Linked DNA regions of Homo sapiens: all the other regions are reported to be linked to region 2. The links are microRNA targets in miRTarBase. Many come from high-throughput screens and were not tested one by one. Region 2 holds a microRNA gene; each other region holds the end of a gene's coding sequence.
What was found. Region 2 holds the annotated microRNA hsa-miR-411-5p (UAGUAGACCGUAUAGCGUACG, at 2,139-2,159, opposite strand). A microRNA usually pairs through its seed, bases 2 to 8, with sites in the 3' UTR of a target mRNA and lowers its output. Matches are read on the target gene's strand: a 7mer-m8 pairs with bases 2 to 8, a 7mer-A1 pairs with bases 2 to 7 and ends in A, and an 8mer does both.

Region 1: the mRNA of THAP8 is a reported target of hsa-miR-411-5p. The part of its 3' UTR that is shown has no 7-base or 8-base seed match.
Region 3: the mRNA of KIAA0930 is a reported target of hsa-miR-411-5p. Seed matches in the 3' UTR shown: 8mer at 3,682-3,689.

What each region holds. Positions count from the first base shown.
Region 1 is chr19:36,032,138-36,036,137 of GRCh38, forward strand. It overlaps THAP8 (THAP domain containing 8), which reads right to left. Exons shown (of 4, transcript NM_152658.3): 4 at 2,847-3,455. The coding sequence ends at 3,303. CLIP3 (CAP-Gly domain containing linker protein 3) reads right to left here and starts at 736. Exons shown (of 14, transcript NM_015526.3): 1 at 587-736; 2 at 55-278. The coding sequence starts at 220. The region is part of intron 3 of LOC101927572 (a long non-coding RNA gene); the gene reads left to right. RefSeq lists a silencer at 3,462-3,635.
Region 2 is chr14:101,021,244-101,025,498 of GRCh38, reverse strand. It overlaps MIR411 (microRNA 411), which reads right to left and starts at 2,174; the gene lies at 2,079-2,174. LOC124903407 (mucin-2-like) reads right to left here. Exons shown (of 5, transcript XM_047432049.1): 5 at 1-4,255. MIR379 (microRNA 379) reads right to left here and starts at 3,433; the gene lies at 3,367-3,433. MIR299 (microRNA 299) reads right to left here and starts at 1,705; the gene lies at 1,643-1,705. It also overlaps MIR380.
Region 3 is chr22:45,193,943-45,197,942 of GRCh38, reverse strand. KIAA0930 reads left to right here. Exons shown (of 10, transcript NM_001009880.2): 9 at 1-153; 10 at 727-4,000. The coding sequence ends at 767. Among named protein-coding and RNA genes, the nearest start is that of MIR1249, 5.1 kb to the left of the region's middle.

The DNA.
Region 1 (4,000 bases), not on the chromosome of region 2:
CTCCCCGGCCACCCAACGCTCCAGGCCAGATTCCAGGGTGGGGACAGTGGTTACCGTAGTCCTTAGGGAGGGGGGCAGGTGCCGAGGGGTGCACAACAGGCTTCTGCCGGCGCTCCTGGGTGGGGCTGGGGGCCTCGGGGACGGGTTCATCCTCCTCCTCCTCTTCTTCCTCCTCTCCTCGGGGTGGCGGGGCCATCGGGGCAGGATCTGTCTTAGTCATGGTCCTCGGTGGCCCTCGGGGGGCGGGTGCAGAGTTGGGGGCAGCCTTCAGGCAAATCCTGGAGGCAGAGGTCAGCTGGAGAGGGTGCCCGGCAGGCTCCAGGGTCCAAGCCCCTAGGAGCTTCCAGGGCCCCGGGTGGCCTCCGCGCAACTGGATCTTGGGCAACCATAGGGACCCCCGTTACCCATAGAGGGCCCCGGTGTGTGCGCCCAGCGCCTGCCACCTCCCCCAGGCCCAGCCCCCCATTCTTCTCCTCCCGCGTCAGGCCCCTCAGTCGCGGCTGCCCCCTCCCCGGGTTTGTTTATCTCGGGATTCAGGATGCTTCGCCCCTCCCCTTCTCCGCGGGCCGCCCCCTCCCCATCTTACCTCGGGCAGACAGCGCTGGGGACCAAAGTGGAGACTGGGGAGACTGTGGGAGCAATGGGGTGTCGGTGTCAGGGGACGTGATGGGGGAGGCAAGGGAGACAGAGAGAAGGGGACGAGGCCCAGACGCCGACAGGGGGTGGGGGCGGAGAGGGAGGGGCGCGACTGCGCATGCGCCTGCTGCCCCCCTACCGGCGGCGGGGGAGGAGGGACCAGGAGGAGGGACCGGGAGGCGCTCGCATTGATGGAGGGGCCAGAGGCGGCGACTGAAAGGGGAGAGCCTCCGGGCACTGGGAGAGGAAGAGATGGCTACGGAAAGGAGCGAGATGAGCAGATACAACGGCAAAAGAGAGGGCTGAGAGAGCGGACACAGATCTTCTCCATCCCCTTCCCCCACGCCTGCAAACCAGGCCGGTGAGGGCAGTGGTCTTGGGGCGTGGTGACGATGGGGACCCTCTAGGGGACCCTCTCTCTAGGACCCTAGACCGGACCCCTTCTCCAAGCTCACCATTCATAATGGGTGCCTCAGAGGGGTGATTTCCTAGAGACTCCTATCATGATCATCTCATCCTTACCATCATAATGCGAGGCTCACACACTGGGGCCCAGAGGTTAAGCAGCTTGCCCAAAAGTACATGAGTAGGTGATGGAGCGAACATTTGAAACCAGACAGTCTGTAAAGTCTGATTTTTATTTTTATTATTTCCTAGACAGGGTCTCACTCTGTCACCCAGGCTACTGTGCAGTGTTGTGATCTTGGCTCACTGCAGCGTCAAACTTCTGGGCTCAAGCCATCCTCCCACCTCAACCTCCCGAGTAGCCGAGACCACACGTGCATGCCACCATGTCTGGAGAATTTTTTTTGAGACAGGGTTTTGCCATGTTGCCCAGGCTGGTCTTGAACTCCTGACCTCAAGGGATCCTCCTGCCCCTGCCACCCAAAGCGCTGAGATTACAGGCACGAGTCACCATGCCCAGCTTTGATTCTTAATCACCATGCTACATGCCTGTAGCAGTGTCTGGGAAACAGATCTGCCGATTGACCCCTCCAACTCTCTCAGAACCTGTATCTTCCCCACGGAGGCCTCCTGAAGCCAGCCCAGGGTCCTGGCTCCATTGTCATGGCTTGGCTTCCCACCTGGAGCTGTAGCCTGCTCTGCCTCAAATCATCCCAGCCTGGATGGGGCTGGGTGACAGCCTTGAACACCTCATCCTTCTAATGCACAGGTCCAGTAGCTCCATCTCCAAAAGATTTCCAGGATCTCACTCTCCCCACCGCTACCCTGGGCCCTCATCTTGGTCCATCCTTCTTCTTCTGCCACCAGCACTACGGCAGCAGCCTCTTACCTGCTGTCCCCGTCCTCCTCCAACATGCAGCCACAGGGACCCATGAACACCTGTCACTTTGGAGCCCTCTTTCCCTCAGAGGGGTCTGCCTGCTGCACCTCACTCCAGGTAGAAGCCAAGGCTCTCAGCCATGGCCCACAAGGGCCTATGTGAACCTGCCCCATCATCTCTGCACTCACCTCCTCTCACCCTCTTTTGTTCACTCCACCCCAGCCACACTGGCCTCCTTGCTTCTCCCTACCCCAGGACCTTTGCACTGGCTCTTTTTTTTTTTTTTTTTTGAGATGGCAGTCTCACTGTTCCCCAGGCTGGAGTGGAGTGGCATGATCTCTGCTCACTGCAACCTCTGTCTTCCAGGTTCAAGTGATTCTCCTGCCTCAGCCTCCCGAGTAGCTGGGATTACAGGCCTGTGCCACCACACCCAGCTAATTTTTGTATTTTTAGTAGGGACGGGGTTTCGCCATGTTGGCCAGGCTGGTCTCAAACTCCTGACCTTAGGTTATCTGCCTGCCTCAGCTTCCCAAAGTGCTGGGACGACAGGCGTGAGCCACCGTGCCTGGCCTGCAACGGCTCTTTGTGATGCCCGGAATGCTCTTCCTCCAAATCCCTACGTGGCTCCCTCTCTGCCCTGTTTTAGGATCTTACTTGTTGGTGTCTTTTCACCTTCTCTGCTCTAAAACTGCACCCCTTCCTCCCTTCCCTACTATGGTTTTCTCCATAGCAACACCGCCTCCCAGACCTGACACATCCCAGACAGCAGGCCCTCACTGCAGGGGTTGTTCGTCCTCTGGAACCTGAGCCTGTAGCGCTCCAGGCCAGCCCCTTCTGATCACCCAGGTTTCTGCTAAAACATGGCCTTGGAGGGCCCTCCCCCAGGCCCAAACCAAATTTTTGTTGTCTTTATAGCACTCATCGCTCATGTCTGCAGTGTTCTTGTTTATTTGTTTACTAGTTCATCGTCTACTCAAGTAGAATGAGCACCATGAGGGCAGGGATTTTCTCAGCTGTGTCCACCATGGTATCATGAACTCAGTACCAGGCTTGGCAAAAAGCGTGGGACTCCTTAGAACCAGGTATGATTCTCCCAAACAACCCTTGCTCTGCTCTGAGGCTGTCGTACTGATTTGCAAAGATCTGAGCCGGGGGTGGCAGAAGCCTGGTACCCAGGGGATTGGGGGCTGATGAGAGACTTGGGCCCAGGTCACCCCTAAGGTTCAAGAGATCCCTAGGAGTGGGGTGGTAGAACCCAGGCCCTTGAGGGAGGCACTGCTACTACCCAGGCGTGGGCGGTGGGGCTGGGCCAAGCCCACGTATAATGTCTTTCCTCCTCCATCTTCTATCTTTTGTCCCTCGACATTGTCTGTCTTGATCCTTATGCACTGGGGATCCGAGTGTCCAGGAGCTCCGGCTTGGCATCCACTGTGGCAGGTGCAGGGTCCTGGGCAAGGACCATGGCTATGTCAGGCCCTCCACAGATGATGGTGAAGGTTTGGGATTCCTCAGGTCCAAGGGTCTGGGCTGTTGTCTAAGGCAAAGAAGTGGTAGAGATGGGGAACATTACGAAGCAAGTTGCGGGAGAGACAGACAGATAACGGTGAGGAACAGGGAGGCAAAGGTGGCAGGAGGGCGTGTCAGGAAACAGAGAGAGATGTGGGGAGAGATATGAGGAGACAGGAAAGCAGATGTGAGGGCCAGAGAGACATTCATGGGAAAGGAAAGAAGGGTGGGGAAATGGGAAGAGAAGTGCGGGGGCACAGACGCAGACACGTGGGGGAAAGAGATGTGCAGGCAGACAGACGTACAGACAGGGTCAGAGATATGGGGGAGACAGAAAATATGCAGATAAAGAGAGACACAGGGAGGTGGGGAAACAGGTGGCGGACAGAGATGATGGGCAGAAAGACAATGAATGTTGGGGAGGGAGGAGATTGGGAGGTAGGGATAGATGAGTAGGAGACAGAGATTGAATGACAGGAGGGGAGGCAGAGAGAGGCAGTCAGCTCAGGGGATCTGGCAGGCTCCACAAAGAGCCCCAGGCCCGAGTCTGAGCTCTGTCCCTGCCCCACTGTC
Region 2 (4,255 bases):
CATGAACTACCAGCCACCGGCAATGTGGCAATGACCACAAACCCACATCCAATGCCACTACCACCTCCAGGATGCCCTGTAAGGGTGGGACCGGTACTGAGTTCTTGGCTGGTGGACCAAATGGCCAATGTAATAAATAAAGGACTGGGTCTGCAGCCAACCACCCGGTGACCTGCACTGCACCCTGGCTACCACTCAGGCCTGGCTCTCAAGTCGGCATGGCCTCCGGGAAGCCCCAGGGCTGGCTGATACTGAGAATGAGTGGACCATGCTACATCTGTCATTCAACAATGCATATGCTTTATGCTCTACCATCTCTCCAAGTACTGTGGAATGGCGCTGAAGCCAGATCAGTGTGTCTCCCACGAAGGTGACTTTGCCTCTCTCTGGGAAGCCCTCTATGACTGAATTTGATATTGAGAAGATGTGGACCATATTACATACGACACAGAGATAGCGCATGTTCTATGGTCAACCATCTTTTCAGGTACCTTGGAGAGGGCTGAGGTCAGAGCCGGTGTCTCTTTCCTCTCACTAGCATCACCTCCAGGAAGCCCTCTGAGGCCTGATGTAGTATTGAGAAGAGGCCACCATGCAATGTCTGCCGCAGATGCAGTGGACGCAGCACAAAGGAGCCCCTCAAGAATGGAGATGATGCTGGAACTAGTGCTATGACTGACACTCGTTCCTGCCTACAGAAAGCCCCCCGAGGTGCACGCTGTTATAGGAAGGTGGACGAAGTAACATGCGTTGTAAGTAAAACATATGAAGCATGGCCAACTTCTACTAAGTACCCCGAGGCAGTACTTGTACCAGAACTGGTGCTTTGTCTCCTAAGCTTAACATAACCTCCCTGGAGACTTTCCAGGCTGAATGGGATACTTCAAAAGAAGTAGACCATGTTACATACGTCATGGGGAAAAGACATGCAGTGTGGCTGAACCCTTTTCAGGTACCGTGAGGTCAGTGAAGAGGCCAGAACCAGTGCTCTGTCCCTGAGGCTGGCAGCTTCTTCAGCAAGTTCTCCAAGCAAGGGTTCTGGGATGGAGATAGGGAAGAAGTGGGCCATGGAGGCACTTCCTCTGTAAACATACACGATGGGGTCGAGCAGCTCTTCATGAGGATCAGTGCTGAGTCCAGAGCTGGGACATCTTCCCCCGAGATGGCTAGACTTGAGATGGAAAAAAGATAGACTGTACACGCATCAGCAAAGACAAAAACGAGTCAGTGCGTCTTCAAGTACCTGGAGTGGCATCATCTCCTGGACCCATATCTGCTCCTACATGGGCGTACTGTCCTGAAGTCATCTGAGGAGGGCTCTGAGGATGAGAGGTGACCTGTTTCACATCCCTCGTTCATGAACATTTGCGGCACCAGCCACCGTTTCTTCAATTACTCCAGAGGGATGTGCCAACGTGGGCAGTAGGACACCTTCCTGGAGGTCATCCTTGTCCTGAGGAAGTCACTGGAGGCTGTGTTTGGCACTGAGGAGAAGACCGCATCACAAGCATTGACAGAGAAAGCACACATCTAAGAGTCTACCATTCCACCAAGTGCCATGGCATGGCGGATGCCGAGACCCGTGGCTCTCCTCTAACTCCAGGCTTTCTCCAGGGAGGTTTGGATGGCTGGGCTGGATACCAAGAAGCGGTTTACCATCCCACATACATATTCAAAATGTATGTGGGACGGTAAACCATTTCTTCAAGTACCGCACGATGGTGGTGGTGGTGGCTGGAAGAAGGCTCATGTCCACGAAGTTGCCTGAGGGCGCTTCTTCTAGGCTGCATTTGACGCTGAGAAGAAGCAGGTCACGGTGTCTACTGAATAAGCGTAGCGTAGTCAACCACGTCATTGAGCACCATGGAATGGCACTGATTCCGGGAAGAATCAAGGTCTCCTCCCCAGGGATGGCGCGATTTCCCAAGGCAGAACTTGATTTAAGAGGAGCGAGATTATGCCATTTTGCATCATGCAGAAAAACACATGCCATACAGAAAATCATCTCTTCGGGTGTCATGGAGAAGTGGTGGTGGGTCCAACCGTTCCTCCCCGAAGACAGCGTTGTTTCCAGGAGCCTCGGGGATGGATTTGATACTGAGGGTTAGTGGACCGTGTTACATACGTCACAGATAAAGCGTACGCTATACGGTCTACTATCTCTCCAAGTACCACACAGAGATGCCGAGGACAAAGGCTCAGGACACATCCAGAAAGCCCTCCAAGGCCTTGAGCTGGGTGGAACCAGAAGGGAGGTTGAGCACAGCACATGCATCATGCGACAAGCACACACAGGCCAGGAGTCTCGTCTTCATGGTCGGGGGTTGACATGAATGCTCGAAGCAGTGGCTCATCCCCAAAACTGGCAACTCCTCCAGGAAGCCCTTCGAGGCCGAAAGTCCCACTGAGAAGAAGTGGACGATGATATGGATTTCATCACTCCATAAATACTGATTAAGTGCCTGCTGTGTGCCAGGCGCACTGTGCTGGGTCTGAAGGAGTGGGTAGATGGGAGGGAGGACATGGCACATGGCTAACAGAGCTGGTTAGGGGAGTGGGGAGAAAATCAGAAATACAAAATGGCCCACGTGCAACCAAAGAACATCCATCTAGTTACACTAACCAGGCCAAGGAAACAGTACTGGGCACCTGAGGCCCAGATCTTACCTATTAGTGAGCTCTAGTCTTGGGCATTAAAAAAAAAAAAAAAGTGCCCTAAGGCCATATCTGCCTCAATACCAAGGGCATTTCCAGGAGGTCCTCTTAGGTTGGATTAGATTCTGAGCAGTAACCACCATGCCATCTTCATGAACAAAGCAGGAGTTGTTTTGGTCAACCACCTCCCTAAGGACAGAACCACTGTCTCATTCCCAGACTTGGCACTGCCTCCGGAAAACCCTGAGACTGAATGTAAGATTGATCAGAGGTGGACATTGGTATAAACAGAAAACTTCAACACAGGAAAGCAACTCTTCAATGCCACACAGCGGAATGAAGGATGGACTGGTGGGTCCCCCTGAAGGTAGTATTGGCTCCACGAAGCCCTCCAAAGCTGGCAGGCTACTGGGAAGTGGTAGCCCATCTCACACAAATCCCTCCTTTCGCACAGGCCACATGGCAAATCATCTCTTCCAGAACCACGGCTGAGGCTGGAACCGGTGTCTTGAGCCCAAGTTGCATCACTTCCAGAAAACTCCCCAGAGAGTGCATTTAGTGCCCAGAAGAGCCAGGCCTTGTTGCACAAGTCAGACATCAACCATGAGCCACAGAAATTGCCGTGGAGCAGTGCTGAAGCTAAACCACGTGTTCTCTTCCCTGAAGTTGGCAACACCTCCAGGAAGCCCTCCGAGGATGGATTGGATACTGAGAGTTAGTGGACCATGTTACATAGGTCAGAAATCATAACGCCTACGTTCCATAGTCTACCATCTCTTCAGGAACCACGGAATGGTGCTGACCCCAGAACCAGGGCCTTGCCCCTGAAGTTGGCGTCACTTCCAGAAAGCTTTCTGAGGCTGGATTTGGCATTGGAAGCAGGCACATGGTGAACATAAACAACCCCTCCTCCAATGTGGGGCAGTGGCATTGATGGGGGAAGGGGTGCCTCTACCCTAAGTGGTAATTCCTCCAGGAAGGCCATGTCAACTTGGAAAGACTGCGACAAGGCAAAATGTACAATACTGACCATGCTTTGGCCATTATGTGGTCAACTATCTCTTCATCAAGATAAAGGGCAGTGTTTTGTTCTGCATGGCAAATGGGACACTCCAAGAGCACAGTTCATCATATAAAAGGGGACCCTCAACCTCTAGGTAAAAACTTCCCTAGCTCACCCAAGTTCCGATGGTCCTCGCCATGCTCTAGACCACCTTTGGAGACTCAAACCACAGAGCTGAGTGGGCAGTGCGTTCCTCCAGCTCCTGATTAACCTCTCCACCTCCTTCAGGAGGTCTTCCTTGATTTTCTCCATCCCCTTTCATGGCACAACTATCCCATGTGAATGGAATGCAAAGCAATGATTTGTTAGCCTCCAGGGAAAGGACAAGGGCAGAACCCTCAGCAGCCCTGCAGGACAGCTCGGTTGTCCTCTAAAGTCCTGAACCCCAGTGTAGACGGGGCCCTGCAACTCAGTTGTTGAAGTCCTAACTCCTTAGGAAGTCATTCAAGGCATCATGCTCCCCTGCTCCCTCCAAGTGTGAGCTAGTCTAGTCTAAGAGATTACCCTCCATACCCCGTGCATTGTCCACATGCCTTT
Region 3 (4,000 bases), not on the chromosome of region 2:
TGCACAATGCAACCAACCTGCGGTCTCGGTCCCTGTCGGGCACAGGACGGTCCCTGGTCGGGTCCTGGCTGAAGCTGAACAGAGCAGATGGAAACTTCCTTCTCTATGCACACTTAACCTACGTCACGTTGCCGCTGCATCGGATTTTAACAGGTAATGCTGGCGGATGTGGGGAAGCAGCCGCACCTTCTCACAGCCAGCTCTGCCTCCAGGGCCTTGGTACTTGTGAGCCACCCGGAGTCATCCCGCCCTGTCCTGTCGGTTGGTTGGGTTTCTTTGCAGGGCTCTTGGCCTCTTTGTCTCAGACTTTGGGTGGAGCCGTAGCTTTCCCAGAGCTGAAGTCCTCCCTTTGTTCACCTTTCTGGCGCACCTGCTGTCCCCTCTTGAGTGGCCACAGATGCCCAGGTGTGTGTTACTCACGGGCGAGGGGAGGCTCTCAGGCCACCTCGCTGACCCAGGCCTGCAGCAGCTGTGACAGGCAGTGGCTCTGGCCCCCACACCAGCTTGCACCTGAGGCCCTGCAGGGTGTGCCGTTGCTGCGAGCCCATTTCCCAGTCTGCAGGGTGAGGATGGTGGAGACACGTCTCCTCTGCAGTCTGTGAGGCCTGGAGAGGAGATGCATGAGTGGCTGAGGCGGGCTTCCTTCAGAAGTGGCACTGCCGTGACCATAGCACTCACCGCTGTTGAGGGTTACTGTTTCACCTGCTTCCCTCCTGCCGGCCCTAGACATCCTGGAAGTTCGGCAGAAGCCCATCCTGATGACCTAGCCGCGTGCGGAGCCTGCGCAGAGCCCCGGCCGGGCCCAGCCCTCGGAGTGCTGCCAAGTGCCTACCTGTCCACCGCCACCGGGGTCTGCGATGGCACGCCAGTGCTGGAGCCGCAGCCAGGCGAGGCCACTCGACTCCCGGGGCCGGGGCCGACTCCACGAACACCAGCCCAAACTGAAGTGCCTCTTCCCTCCCCTGCTGGCGCTGCTCCGCCCTGTGCCCCCCGCCCATCGCCCCCCACCCATCTCTGGAGAGCCCTCTGCACCCAAAGAGGACTAGAGATGCCGAGCGGCCATGAGAGAGAGCGGAAGGAGCAGCTGATGCCCAGAGCGGGGCCAGAGCGGCGGGTCTATGTTCACGTCCCCCCAGCAGCAGGCGGAACCACCCAGCCAGGGCACTCAGTGCATTGGACTGTCCACATGTTCTTGAGGAAAGCCGGTGGAAGATTCTGGAATGCCGTGCGGATGAACTTCAGCACCCGAGTCAGTCCCAGCTCATCCTCCCCAGTTTACCACTTTGTTCTAATAGGAGATGGGAACACGAGAAGTTTGATGGCTTTGCCCTGGGCTGGGAATACCTCACCCACGCCCAGTTCCAGAAAGGCCTCCAGCTGAGCAGACGGCCCCGATCCCGCCAGAACGGCCTTTTGCTTCCAGCCAAAGAACACCGCCAACACGCACACCTCCAACCTGGGACATCCCACGCTGGGCCTCGCACGGAGGAACCTGCAGAATTTGGATTCTGAGGGTAGTCGGGAGGCCTCGGTAGCCAGGCAGAACAGGATATCTGCCAAAGGGTGTCTGATGTGGGGTGGGGCTGGCATCCTCCCAGGAAGGTTCTAGGTGGGACCCCGTCTTCTGGGGGCGGGGGTGTCTTTTCATCTTCCCTGGTTTCCTAGAACTCACTTCCTTTGACGGCGTGTGTTGGTCCCATCTCTCAGACCAGCTCACTGAGGCAGAGGAGTTGCTCAGAGGCTCACATGGGCACCCCCATTGGTTCGTGTGAGCAGCTGCCCAGCCCCAGGCCTGCCCTCGGCCTGGTCCAGCATGAAGGCGTTTCCATCTGCAAGGATGCACGGTACCCTCCCCGAGAGCAGGCCTGTCCCCTACCCAACTGGGAATAAACTGGAAGCTGGGTCTCTTTGTTGCTATGTTTTTTTGTTTGAAGTTCCCAGGAATATTTGAGGGGTTCCGGTGATGTGTTTAGGGATCTTCTCTGTGGGGGAAAAGGAAGAGGAGGGTCTTGTTCTCCCATCTGTTTATTCTTTGGGCTCTGGGAACAGGGGACTACTTTGGGGCTTTCTCCAGACTTTTGTATGTTGTTATTAAAAGCGAGCTATTGCATTTCATTCTGCCTCAGTTTGCCCACCTGTGAAATGGGGCTGATACCACCTACCTCACTGAAGTCCCAGGGTTCAAGTGTGTGGCTGGGTCAGGGCGTGGTCACCCGTCATTCTGCATAGGTCGGGTTGGATGTTAGACTCCTGGGATGCCCTCCTCCCCCTCGCCCTTTGTAATAACCTAATCTGAGACCGTGCTTGGTGGGGGGATGTGAACTTTCTCTCTCCCCCAGCAGTGTCTGCTCAGGCCTGACAGCTCAGCTCTGCACGATTTCATGTTCCTAAACCCATGTCTTAGGGCAGCACAGAGCCAGGTCATGTCATGCCCCAAAGTGTGGGGACAGAGCCTCAGGGAGCCCCGAGCATGGTCCAGCCCCATTTGAGTGCTCTCCGGGGATGCCAAATGCTGCTTCCAAGTTTGAGTCCATGTGGCTAAAATACACCCATTTCTTCAGGAACTCTTCCCCTGGTTGTTCTGGGGATCTTGGGAGAAACACAGCCCTGACAGCTCGTCCGTGGGAAGATGAGGCAGTCCAGGTTGTGAGGAGCACAGCGGCCCGCCCTCTGTTCTCAGAGGTGAGGGGCGGGAGAAGGTTGTCTCCTCTGGGGCCAGCATTTGGCCAAGCTCGGAGGCTTGGCCAGCACTGCTGGATGGCTCAGAGCAAGCTGGGCTCCCCGTCTGTAAGATGGCAAAAATGCTGCCCCCCTCACAGGGTGACCATGAGGACCAGTCACAGTGATGTGTGAAAGGGCTCGCTGGTCACAGAAACGTGTACAAATCATGCTATTTTAGAGATCAGCCCTCAATTTGTAAGGCATGTGAACAGGGCACGCGGTGGGCTGGTGGTTTCATAGCCGACACACAGCGCCTACCATGTGCAGCTGCCTGTCCGACCCCATCTTACAGACGAGAAAACCAGCACACAGGCACCAAGGAACTGTCCGGAACTAACAGCAGGGGCCGGCGATGGGAGTCAAACCCAGGCACGCGGCCTGGCCTGCATGCTGAGCCACATGGTGCTGTCCGGACAGATGGACAGACACTCGGTGGAGTCTGCCTTTCTCAGGCCCTAAATCCCTCTCCAAAGGGTACTTGCGATGCCGGATTTAAAACTTGCTCAGAGCCACTTAGCCACTTGAGAACCAGACAGTAAGGTGTTACTCCCAGGTTTGTTTTTCCAAAGTAACAGATGACATGTGGAATAAAGTAATAGAGTAACAAGTGGCAGGGCCAGAACCAGGGTCCCCAAAGTCCTGGTGTTGGCACATTTGTACTTCTTGTAAGACCATCTTTAATTTTTCTGGGAACACACCTGCCTTTTGTGTAATGCGGGGAAGACTAATGCATGGTGACACCTAGTTTTCCTCAACAGGACACTTGATCCCAAAACCCCTTTAAGACCTTAGGTTTCCTCAGCGGAAAACTGTACTTTAATCCCAAACCCCCTTTAAGACATATTGGGGCTGGGCGCAGTGGCTCACGCCTGTAATCCCAGCACTTTGGGAGGCTGAGATGGGTGGATCACCTGAGATCAGGAGTTCAAGACCAGCCTGACTAACATGCTGAAACCCCATGTCTACTAAAGATAGAAAAATTAGCTGGACATGGTGGCAGGCACCTGTAATCCCAGCTACTCGGAAGGCTGAGGAAGGAGAATCACTTGAACCTAGTAGGCAGAGGTTGCAGTGAGCCGAGATCACGCCATTGCATTCTAGCCTGGGCAACGAGAGCGAAACTCTGTCTCAAAAAAAAAAAAAAAAAAAAAAAAAAAAAAAAAAAAAAAGATACATTGGTCTTTAAACCCAAACCCCCTTTAAGGCATGTTGGTCTCAAGGGGATTTGGGATTGAAGCACAGCTTTCTGTTGAGGAAACCTAGGTGTCACTTTTTAGAA